2 separate regions of the Homo sapiens genome follow, and region 1 is linked to region 2. The links come from fine-mapping of genetic effects on gene expression. Tissue or cell type: testis. Region 2 holds a variant in brackets; the other region holds the start of a gene. All regions are shown on one strand. Distances are between the middles of the regions.

Region 1 (5,151 bases), 120 kb after region 2:
TTCATTTACAAACTAAAGTAGGAGTTAATTTTAAGTAATTAATGCAACACACATCAATTGTACCTATGCACCATAATACAGGAAGGTTAGGAAAAAGTTTTTTAAAATGTCAAGTATGTACAGAACATAAACATGTTCATCCAATGTTTGAATACCTCTACATGCAAGTTTTTTTATACACACCATTTATAAATATGCAAATATATTTAATTTAGTACACGCCAAGGGTGGGTAGGTGTTTAACACATACACTTTTAAGGTAGCATAGAAGATAATGTGATTAGCTTTAGCAGACAACATCTGTGTTACACACATGGCCATCAAAATAATTGTGGCATGCTTTTGTGACAAGGACAGAGGCCAAGCCTGTTGTTAAATGATTATTTCCAACAACAGCCTGCTTAAATTATTGTTTAGTTATATGGCCCATATCCAAAGTAACAGTATTACATAGTTGCTGTTGCCTTTGAATCACTCACCAATTTTCAGCCCATTTGTAAAACAAGATAAGCACCACTGGATTATAAAAAATAATTATGGATCAGGATTTTTGATTCATGTTTCTTTGACAAAATTATTCCATTTGATCCCAAGTCCTGGCTGCTCTCTTGACAGAATAATGTACACGCTCTACAGCTGATAGGCATGACTTTGATGATTAAATAGGAAGCTCACATTCCAGATGACTTTAGACTCCAGATAATTTAGACTTTGCACTTCAAAAAGATTTCTTTACTGTCTTAGTATCTGATCATCAGTTACCTTTTTCTAATTGTTTCTATCTCGACACAAGAATCTATATATTATCTACAATTTAGGATGTTTTTGTGATTTTTGCCTATTTTATTCATACAGTACACCAAAGAATGTTACATCATCTTGTAAGTTACAATATTTTCCTGATTTCATTGGGCGGGTGAGAGGAGAAATATTTTGGAACATAAAGAAAAGTTAAAAATACAAAATGTACACCCTCCCCGAAAAGAGTCTATTTTATTGGTCTTGAAAGGAAATACCGAATGAGAATCGAACTGAATTTTGCTCAGTATAATTACTGGGGAAACAATATTCAAAACAACCTCCTAAAGGAAAGGGTTAACAATCTTGTAGCTTTAACTGATTATTTTTGCTCCTTTCTCCCGCAAAAGAATTACACCTATGAAACTGGAATTCTGTACACTAAGAATGGCAACATTAACGCTGAAACTTTTAGCCAGGAATAGTTATCCTAGTGTGCATAAAACTATGTAAAAACTGATTCACAAAAGGAAATGCCCAGGGCCTACCCCATTATGATTAACTTCTGAGATGAAGCGACTAAGAGAGGATACTTGGCAGCCTGAACTCGATTTCTCAGAAAGCCAGCTCTATCAGAGCGGGGGCGGGGGGGCGGTTTCCCTTCACCAGACTCAGCTGTTGCCTTATCTAAAATGCCTTAGCGATCTAAAACTGAAAGAGAAAGATAAACAAAACAACAAAACGCTCCGGATTTAGATCTCCTTTAGGTAGTTAACACTGTTGCAAAAGCAAAACAAGCACGCAGGCGCGTCGGTCAGGTTGTCACTACAAACATACGTACCTTCTCATCCAATGTAAGGAAGAGGATCTCTGCGAGCTCTGCTGCCTTTTTGTTTGGGCTCTCTAGGTTAATGTAGTGATTGCATTTTAATGACCCACAAACAGGAGCAAAGTTATTACTGGGTCGCTTTGAGAGATGTTTACTTAAATGTGAGGATAAACCCAGGTCGCTGTAGAAAGGGAAAATATTTTCCGTCCAAACGTAGCATTACCCAACTACGAACCCACGCAAAACAATCACAATGACCCATTAATGCGTTTCAACGAGTGAACTAGTTCACTTCCCTAATAACACTGTCAAGGAAAACGCCTTCAACAAAGTCGAGGGAAACCATGCCTTCCACACTGGTGGGACGCAGCTGGTATAACCCATTCTGCCCCTCTTTGAGAGCTGCGGGGCACCCAGAGGCTTTTGGAGAAAACCGGTTTGGGGAAGAGTTTTGGGGTGCTGCTGGGAGCCGGTGTGCTGAGTAAACTTAGAAACGTCAAACTCAACTTTGCTTTATGAAGGAACTCAAAGTTAACTCACCCTGGTACGTCCACCCTCTCCCTGCGCGCAGGGGACAGCGGCCTCTCCTCCCCACCGCGCAGAGTCGCGGCCGCCGCCCTCGACCCACCGGTGACAGCCCTCAAAGCGATGGACCCCCGCACCCGCCCTGCCGCCAACCCCCGGAACGCGCTCCGGGCCGCACCCACCTTGATGCCCTGCTGCTGGGTGGTAAGGGTTAACTTGGATTCATCCAGGAGCAAAACTTCGCAGTAAAATTCTTCCGGAACAGCGCAGAAACAGCCCATGTCGGTTGTGGTCGTCTCCAGCCAGGAGAGAAAGCTACCACCGAGGCGCCCAGCCGCCCCCTCCACTCAAGCGCGATGCATTAATTTATTGTCCGCGCCGTGGCGAGGGTGAGACGAGCAGCTCCCGGCGGGGTCCGGGGACCGGCCGCCGAACCGCCCGGCGGGGCGGGAGCGAGAAAGGCGGAAAAGCCCGGGAGAGTCAGCGCCCGGGAGCCGCCGGGGAAGCGCCGGCGGAACTGGGCGCGGAGGGCGGTGGCGCGTCCCCGCGCATCCTGCGGCTCGAGCTCCTCCGAAGGCGGGGGCGCGGGGCCCCTCCCGCAGTCCTGGGGACGACAAAAGTCTCCTGGCACTGGGGGCAAGAGACCAGAAAAAGGAGTGATGGGAATTCGAGGCTCTCCCCGGCCTTGGAAAACCCTGGAAGCGCTGCACCTCCCTCCTGCCGCACGGATTTGAGCGCGGCCCCGACGTCCTGGCGTCCGATCGGCCTGCGGAGTCCCCCGCGGGCGCGCACTTCCAGCCGCGACCCCGCCCCGCAGCCCCGGGTCAGATCCGCCGAGTATGAAGCGCTCGGCTTTTCTTTTGTGTGAGGAGCACCCACGACGCCCCGACCATGGGCGCAGGGGCAGAGGCGAAGGTCGTCGCTCCGTCCGCTACCCCGTCCCCCAGCCGCAAGCGCCGAGGAGCCGGAAGAGAGGCGGAAAGGGCAGCAGGCTCCTTACCCAGACCAGCGAGGGGAGGTCAGCTCGTCGCGGGGTGTGGCTCCCGTCCGGGGACTCCCGAGCTCATTACGGGTGGCCGTGTGTAGCCAAGTTCAAGCTCTCCCTCCGGGAATGCCTGCCGCGGCGGCGGAATACGGCTTCTTCAGGACATTCAGCAAAGCGGGGAGGCGGGGACCTGCGGGCGGAGGAGCGACGCCCCAGCTGGGAACGCGGCGGACGGGCGAGCGGGGGGTGCGCCCTGGGCGCGCCAGGCCGCAGAGGCTCCGGGGAAAGTTCTCTTGGCCGCGCGAGTGGTGGCGCCCCGGGCGGGAGCAGCCCAGGTGCATGTGGGCCCGGTCCAGGCGTCTGCAAAAAGCCCTGGAACGAAGCGGACCCCCCAGTCCAGCGCTGGCCGCGGCAGGGGAGCCCCTTCTGGGCGGGGTATCAGCTGGGGGCGGAGGGCGGGGCAGAGACCGTGGTCCCAGCGGCGAGGTGCCGGCGAGTCCACGCTGCCAAGCCGCACACTGCGCCCAAGCCGCGGGGCAGTCCAGCGCTCGCTGCGTCCTTCCCCCGAGAGACCTGGAGGCTGGGTGGGGAGAAGAGGACGCGGTGCTGCTCGGACCCCACGGTTCGGCGGTCCCAATCCCACGCCCTCCGCGCGGTCGGCCGCGTCCAGGACTGAGGGGCACAATAGCTCTGAAGCTGCAGTGACCCCTGGTGGGTCCCGATGTCCGTGCACAGGCAGCCGAGGTTGAGCTGCGGACGACACTGAGCCCCGCTGGGCTTCGGAGCAGGTGCAATCTGTGCTCTCCAGCTGGGAACCAGCAGCGAGTTAATGCGAGTCGCAGTTAGGGGAGACACGAGGGGAGGTGTCACAGAAAAAAAACTCTATATTGAGTTTTAGAGTTAGAGCTTTGGCATCAGACGTAGTTTTGAGTTGACTATTCTACTGCTTGTTAGCTGGGTAGCCAAAGCTCAAAAAAAATTGCTTAAAACCTAGGACGTTAGCCCTTAAAACAAAACCAGGCTTCCGTAGCACAGTAGAAATGAAATGAACAATTGGCGACTTTTGATGGAGTTTCCTCTCATAGTGATTTGCCACAAAGGACCTTCTGTAGGAAGCCTCGGCCTTCCCTGCTATTGTGACCCCATCCAAACACAGGATCAGCATAACCGCCAAAGTGCAATATAAATTTCTGAACTTTACCTAGGCTATGAATAAAACTATTTTATCTTCTGAATTTTCTGTGAAATTGACTCAGGTTTTGAATTTCTGATCAAATTTCGTGTCCAGCTTTGTTTTATTGTCAAAGTCTTGCCTGCCTTATGAGGTGACACCTTATTATGCTAGATTTTAGCATTTCTGCTTGTAGAGGCTTTTCTTTTCTGTAATACAGTATTCCTGACAGGAGTTACCAAATGTGATTGAAAGATGGCTTAACATTTTCATTCTTTACCTCCATATCCAACCGAGACACTTGAGGCTGCAAAAACAAAAGGTTCAAGCAATCATCTGTTCCCAGTTTTTTTGAGTTTTGCTCTCACCTGTTTTTTGGCCCTTTGATTTGGTTTTTTTGCTTTCTGATTTTTGGTTTTGCTGTTGTTTGTTTTTGTTTTTTTACCTCCAGTGGCAGTGAGAAGGCTGAGGGTTTTGGATGGGCAGGGATTCTGTTCCCAGCTCCTCATAAGGTAAGTTACAAAGCCATAAGGTCCCATACATATGACACTCTTTCCTGAGTGAAGCATTTTCTTTTCCATTTCTTTATCGGAGACTGGAGAAAAGAACATTTAAAATCTATTTAACACAAAATTAGAGATTACTAGTGACAAGAGGATTCCACAGAGTTTCTAAGGATAGCTTTATTGCATATAATTTACATACAGTTCACTGCATAATTTTTAAGTGTACAATTTGATAAGTTTTGACATAAGTGTGCACCCATGAACCCACCACCATAATCAAGCTAGTACACATATTCATCCCTCCCTAAGGTTTCCTCCTGCACTTTGTCATCTTTCTTTTTTTTTTTTTTTTTTTTGAGACAGAGTCGCGCTCTATCAGAGTGCAGTGGCGCGATCT
Region 2 (5,151 bases):
TATCCATATCCTCCATGTTTTCTAGTTTATGCACGTAAATGTGTTCATAGTAGCCTTGAATGATCTTTTGTATTTCTGTGGTGTCAGTTGTAATATCCCCCATTTCATTTCTAATTGAGCTTATTTGGATCTTCCCTCTTCTTTTCTTGGTTAATCTTGCTAATGGTCTATCAATTTTATTTATCTTTTCAAAGAACCAGCTGTTTGTTTCATTTATCTTTTGCATTTCTTTTTGTTTCAATTTCATTTAGTTCTGCTCTGACCTTGGTTATTTCCTTCATTCTGTTGGGTTTGGTTTGGTTTGTTCTTGTTTCTCTAGTACCTTGAGGTGTGACCATAGATTGTCTAGTTGTGCTCTTTCAGACTTTTTGATACAGGCATTTAAGGCTATGAACTTTCCTCTTAGCACTGCCTTTGCTGTATCCTAGAGGTTTTGATAGTTGTGTCACTATTATCATTCAGTTTGAAGAATTTTTTCCACTATGGTCTGAGAGAGTACTTGATATAATTTCAGTTTTCTTAAATTTATTCAGACTTGTTTTGTGGCCTATCATATGGTCTATTTTGGAGAAAGTTCCATGCACTGATGAATAAAATGTATATTCTGAAGTTGTTGGGTAGAATGTTCTGTAAATGGCCAGGCGTGGTGGCTCCCGCCTGTAATCCCAGCACCAAGGCAGGTAGATCACCTGAGTTCAGGAGTTTGAGACCAGCCTGGCCAACATGGTGAAACCCCATCTCTATTAAGGAATATTATGTAAATATCTGTTAAGTCCATTTGTTCTGGAGTATAGCTTAAATCCATTGTTTCTTTGCTGACTTCCTATCTTGATGACCTGTCTAGTGCTGTCAGTGCAGTATTGAAGTCCCCCACTATTACTGTGTTGCTCTCTATCTCATTACTTAAGTCTAGTAGTAATTGTTTTACAAATTTGGGAACTCCCGTGTTAAGTGCATATATATTTGGGACTGTGATATTTTCCTGTTGCACAAGGGCTTTTATCATTATATAATGTCCTACTTTGTCTTTTTTAACTACTCTTAAAGTTTGTTTTGACTGACATATGCCTGCTTGTTTTTGGTGTCTATTTGCATGGAATATCTTTTTCCATCCCTTTATCTCAAGTTTATGTGAGTCCTTATATGTTAGGTGAGTCTCTTGAAGGCAGCAGATACCTGGTTGGTGAATTCTTATCCATTCTGCAATTCTGTATCTTTTAAGTGGAGCATTTAGGCTATTTACATTCAACATTAGTATTTAGATATGAGGTACTATTCCATTCATTGTGCTATTTGTTGCCTGTATACCTTGTTTTTTCTTAATTATATTTTTGTTTTATAGGTCCTGTGAGACTTATGCTTTAAGGAAGTTCTGTTACTGATGTGTTTTCAGGATTTGTTTCAAGATTTGGAGCTCCTTTTAGCAGTTCTTATAGTGCTGTCTTAGGACTGGCAAATTCTCTCAGCATTTGTTTACCTGAAAAAGACTATCTTTTCTTCATTTATGAAGCTTAGTTTTGCTGGAGACAAAATTCTTGGCTGATAATTGTTTTGTTTAAGGAGGCTGCAGATAGGGACCCAATCCCTTCTACCTTGTAGGGTTTCTGCTGAGAAATCTGCTGTTAATCTGATAGGTTTTCCTTTATAGATTACCTAATGCTTTTGCCTCACAGCTACTAAGATTCTTTCCCTCATCTTAACTTTAGCTAACCTGATGACAATGTGCCTAGGTAATGATCTTTTTGCAATTTGCCAGGTGTTCTTTGAGCTCCTTCTATTTGGATGTTTAGGTCTTTAGCAAGGCTGGGGAAGCTGTACTAGATTATTCCCCCAAATATGTTTTCCAAACTTTTAGATTCCTCTTCCTCCTCAGGAATGCCAATTATTCTTAGATTTGGTCACTTAATGTAATCTCACATTTCTTGGAGGTTTTGTTCATTTTTTTAATGCTTTTTTCTTAGTCTTTGTTGGACTGGGTTAATTTGATAACCTTATCTTCGAGATCTGAAGTTCTTTATTCTGCTTGTTCGAGTCTTACTGCTGAGAATTTCAAGAACATTTTGCATTTCTCTAAGTGTGTCCTTTATTTTCTGAAGTTGTGATTGTTTTTTATTTATGCTATCTATTTCACTGAAGATTCCTCCCCTCGTTCCTTGTATCATTTTTTTTGATTTCCTTAAATTGGACTTCACCTTTCTCTGGTGCCTCCTTAATTGGTTTAATAATCAATCTTCTAAATGCTTTTTCAGGTCAATCAGGGACTTTTTCTCGGTTTAGATCCACTGCTGATGAGAGAGTATGATTTTTTGGGTGGTGTTGAAGAACATTCTTTTATCATATTACCAGAATTGTTTTTCTGGTTCCTTCTCCTTTGAGTAAACTATGTTAGATGGAAGATCTGGAACTTAAGGCTGCTGTTCAGATTCTTTTGTCCCATGGGGTGTTCCCGTGATGTAGCACTCTCCCCCTTTTCCTAGGAATGTGGCTTCCTGAGAGCTGAGATGCAGTGACTGTTATTTCCTTCTGGATCTAGCCACCCAGCAGGGCTACCAGACTCCAGGCTGGTACTAGGGGTTGTCTGCACAGAGTCCTGTGATGTGAACCATCTTCATGTCTCTCAGCCATGGATACCAGCACAGTATTTGCAGTGTCTCTGGGTTCCTGCAGGAGCAATCTGCTTCCTTCAAAGGGTCTGTGGATTCTCTCAGCTTTCTTGGTATATTTCTGCAGTAGTTCTGGAGCAAAATTTCACAATGCAAGTCTCTACACACTGCACGATCCGTCCGAGTGGGAACTGCAATCTAGTCCTGCCCCCTGTCTGTCAATTTCC[A/G]TAGAAAATATGTTTAATAATTATTAAAATGCATAGTATTTTGCTGTTTTAATTAATTGTATAGTGACAACCATGGTAATAACAACTACTTTTAGGGCTCAACAACAATTAGAGCCTTAACATCTTAGGAAATAAACTTTTAAAATTCCAATTTATATGTATATTATGGATATATGTTTTTTATTAATAAAAATATAATAACATTTTAGGGAGAAAGTAGAATAGGAATACAAGTTTAACGACATAAAAGGAATAAATAAATGTTTCTGATTTTTAAAAAAGAGCTTGTTCATAAATTTTTATAAAGGTAGATGAAGAGTACAAAATTGCTATGAAATATAAATTCATAGGATACATTTAAAAGGAATATGACAATTTGATTTTACAATGTCAGTATTTATGATAAACCAAAGATCTGGATCTACTAAAACTTACAAAATTTCAATTCTCAACCTAAAATTACACACGAGTACATGGTTTTTTAAAAAAATTCATAGACCAGGTATGGTGGCTCACACCTATAATCCTAGCACTTTGGGAGGCTGAGGCAGGAGGATCACTAGAGCTCAGGAGTTTGAAACCAGCCTAAGCAACATAGTGTGACCTCATCTCTAAAAGAAAAAAAAATCTTGAAAATCACTGATCTCAGAAACATTTTTTAAAAAGAGCAGATTTGGAGGGGAAGATGGCTTCAGTTTTGAATATGTTACCTTTGAGATACATGAGAGGCATCCGAGTAGTGAACAACAGCTAAAACATTATGTGGACCACACATGTTAAAGCACTAGTCTGTGTATTTTTTATAGATTCCTTCAATCATCACTACCACCCTATGAAGCTGGTACTATTACTATCTTCACTTTATAAACAGAGGAACTGAAGTATAGAAAAGTTAGGGAGACTCACTCAATGCCACACAGCTCTCCAGGTAGACTGTGGTTTGAACCCATACAGTCTGAATCCAGATTTTGAATTTTAACACAGTGTAGTCCCTCCTGAAACATCTGGGTTGAAGATAGGAATCTGAGGCTCAGTCTTTCAATATAATTTAAACCATGGAACAGTTACCAAGGAAAAGTAACACACATTCGTCAGCAGGAAACTTAGACCTTCGGTGCTATGGGGCCCCCTATAGATGCTTCCGGCTTCCAGGCCGTGGACTCTTGAAAAGCCACCTGCCATCATTGTTTCCCAGATACCCTTCATGTGTTGTTGTCAGCCCTCCCAGGATACTGTGCTTCTCATGATGCTCTTCATAAAGTCAAAGGGTTACCTAAGAGGAACTTTCTGCTTCTTGATCTTTCCCCTCTGTTCCTCCAACAGTTGCTTGAAGACATCTCACATAGTAAGTTTCATTCTGTAATAATCCAGCATGACAATCTTCCTTTCTTTGCAACAGGACTCACATTATCACTTATACATATTTTATCAGTCATTATAGGTACTTTCCAGAACATATAATCACAGAATGTGAAACTTTACACGTTACAAAATACAGCATCAGGATGAAAGGAAGAGGGGCCACTACTGACGGCAGAGAGGACACACTTAAGCATGCCTGCTAGAGCTCAATGGATGAGGATTTTTGTTCAATACTCAGAGTACTCGGGGGCAGGGAAGAGAATACAAATATTAACACATACACAGCTTAGTTTAGATGGTTAAGGAAATTATCTCAGAGGTAAACAGTACTAGCAAAGGTAGCACTAAATGTGTGGGCCTGAACAGAGTTAGAGCCTAAGAGAACTAAGGACAAAATCCTGGTGAACACCAACATTTTATGGAACAGGCAGTGGAATCACAATCGTAGAGAAGACTGAACAGGAATAACTAGAGAAAACATGAAGAGAGAGAAACAAAAAGAATATAGTGCCAGAAGAACAAAATGAGAAGATTTCAAGAATGGGCAAGTTGTTAGTGTCAAAGCAAAAGAAAGGTCAAGTAAGACAAGGACTGACAGAGTCTCTTGGATTTAGCAACTGGCAAGGCAGGGCCAGTTTCAGTGATGTGATCGGGAAAAAAGCTGCATGGTGATATGTTTAGGAAACAATGGGATTTCAGAAGTGAATGTAAGAAACTTAGACAAGGTTTTCTGAAGTTTACGCGTGATGCAGAAGGAGCCAAAGACAGCAGCAGATAAGGGAGGGCAAAGGAGGAGGGGAACGGGAGGTTCTAAATGGGAAAGACTTGAACACACCCAAACACTGACTGGAAAGAGGGAGCAGGTAGGGTACAGAGACACAAAACAGAAAAAGCAAGGTGGTAAGATCCAGCTCACAGACACTGGTGACAGGAAAGGAAGGGTATGAAGCAACTAAGTG

What was found. PIP is the estimated chance that this variant, and not a neighbour inherited with it, causes the effect.
Region 1: EPB41L4A starts here. The variant in region 2 is fine-mapped to the expression of EPB41L4A in testis (GTEx, PIP above 0.99).

What each region holds. Positions count from the first base shown.
Region 1 is chr5:112,416,667-112,421,817 of GRCh38, forward strand. EPB41L4A (erythrocyte membrane protein band 4.1 like 4A) reads right to left here and starts at 2,611. Exons shown (of 23, transcript NM_022140.5): 1 at 2,275-2,611. The coding sequence starts at 2,373. EPB41L4A-DT (EPB41L4A divergent transcript) reads left to right here and starts at 2,917. Exons shown (of 1, transcript NR_027706.1): 1 at 2,917-4,312. RefSeq lists a silencer at 3,276-3,365.
Region 2 is chr5:112,298,898-112,304,048 of GRCh38, forward strand. All of the region lies in intron 2 of EPB41L4A (erythrocyte membrane protein band 4.1 like 4A), which reads right to left. Among named protein-coding and RNA genes, the nearest start is that of EPB41L4A, 120 kb to the right of the region's middle. The variant A/G (reference allele first, on the strand shown) is at 2,831.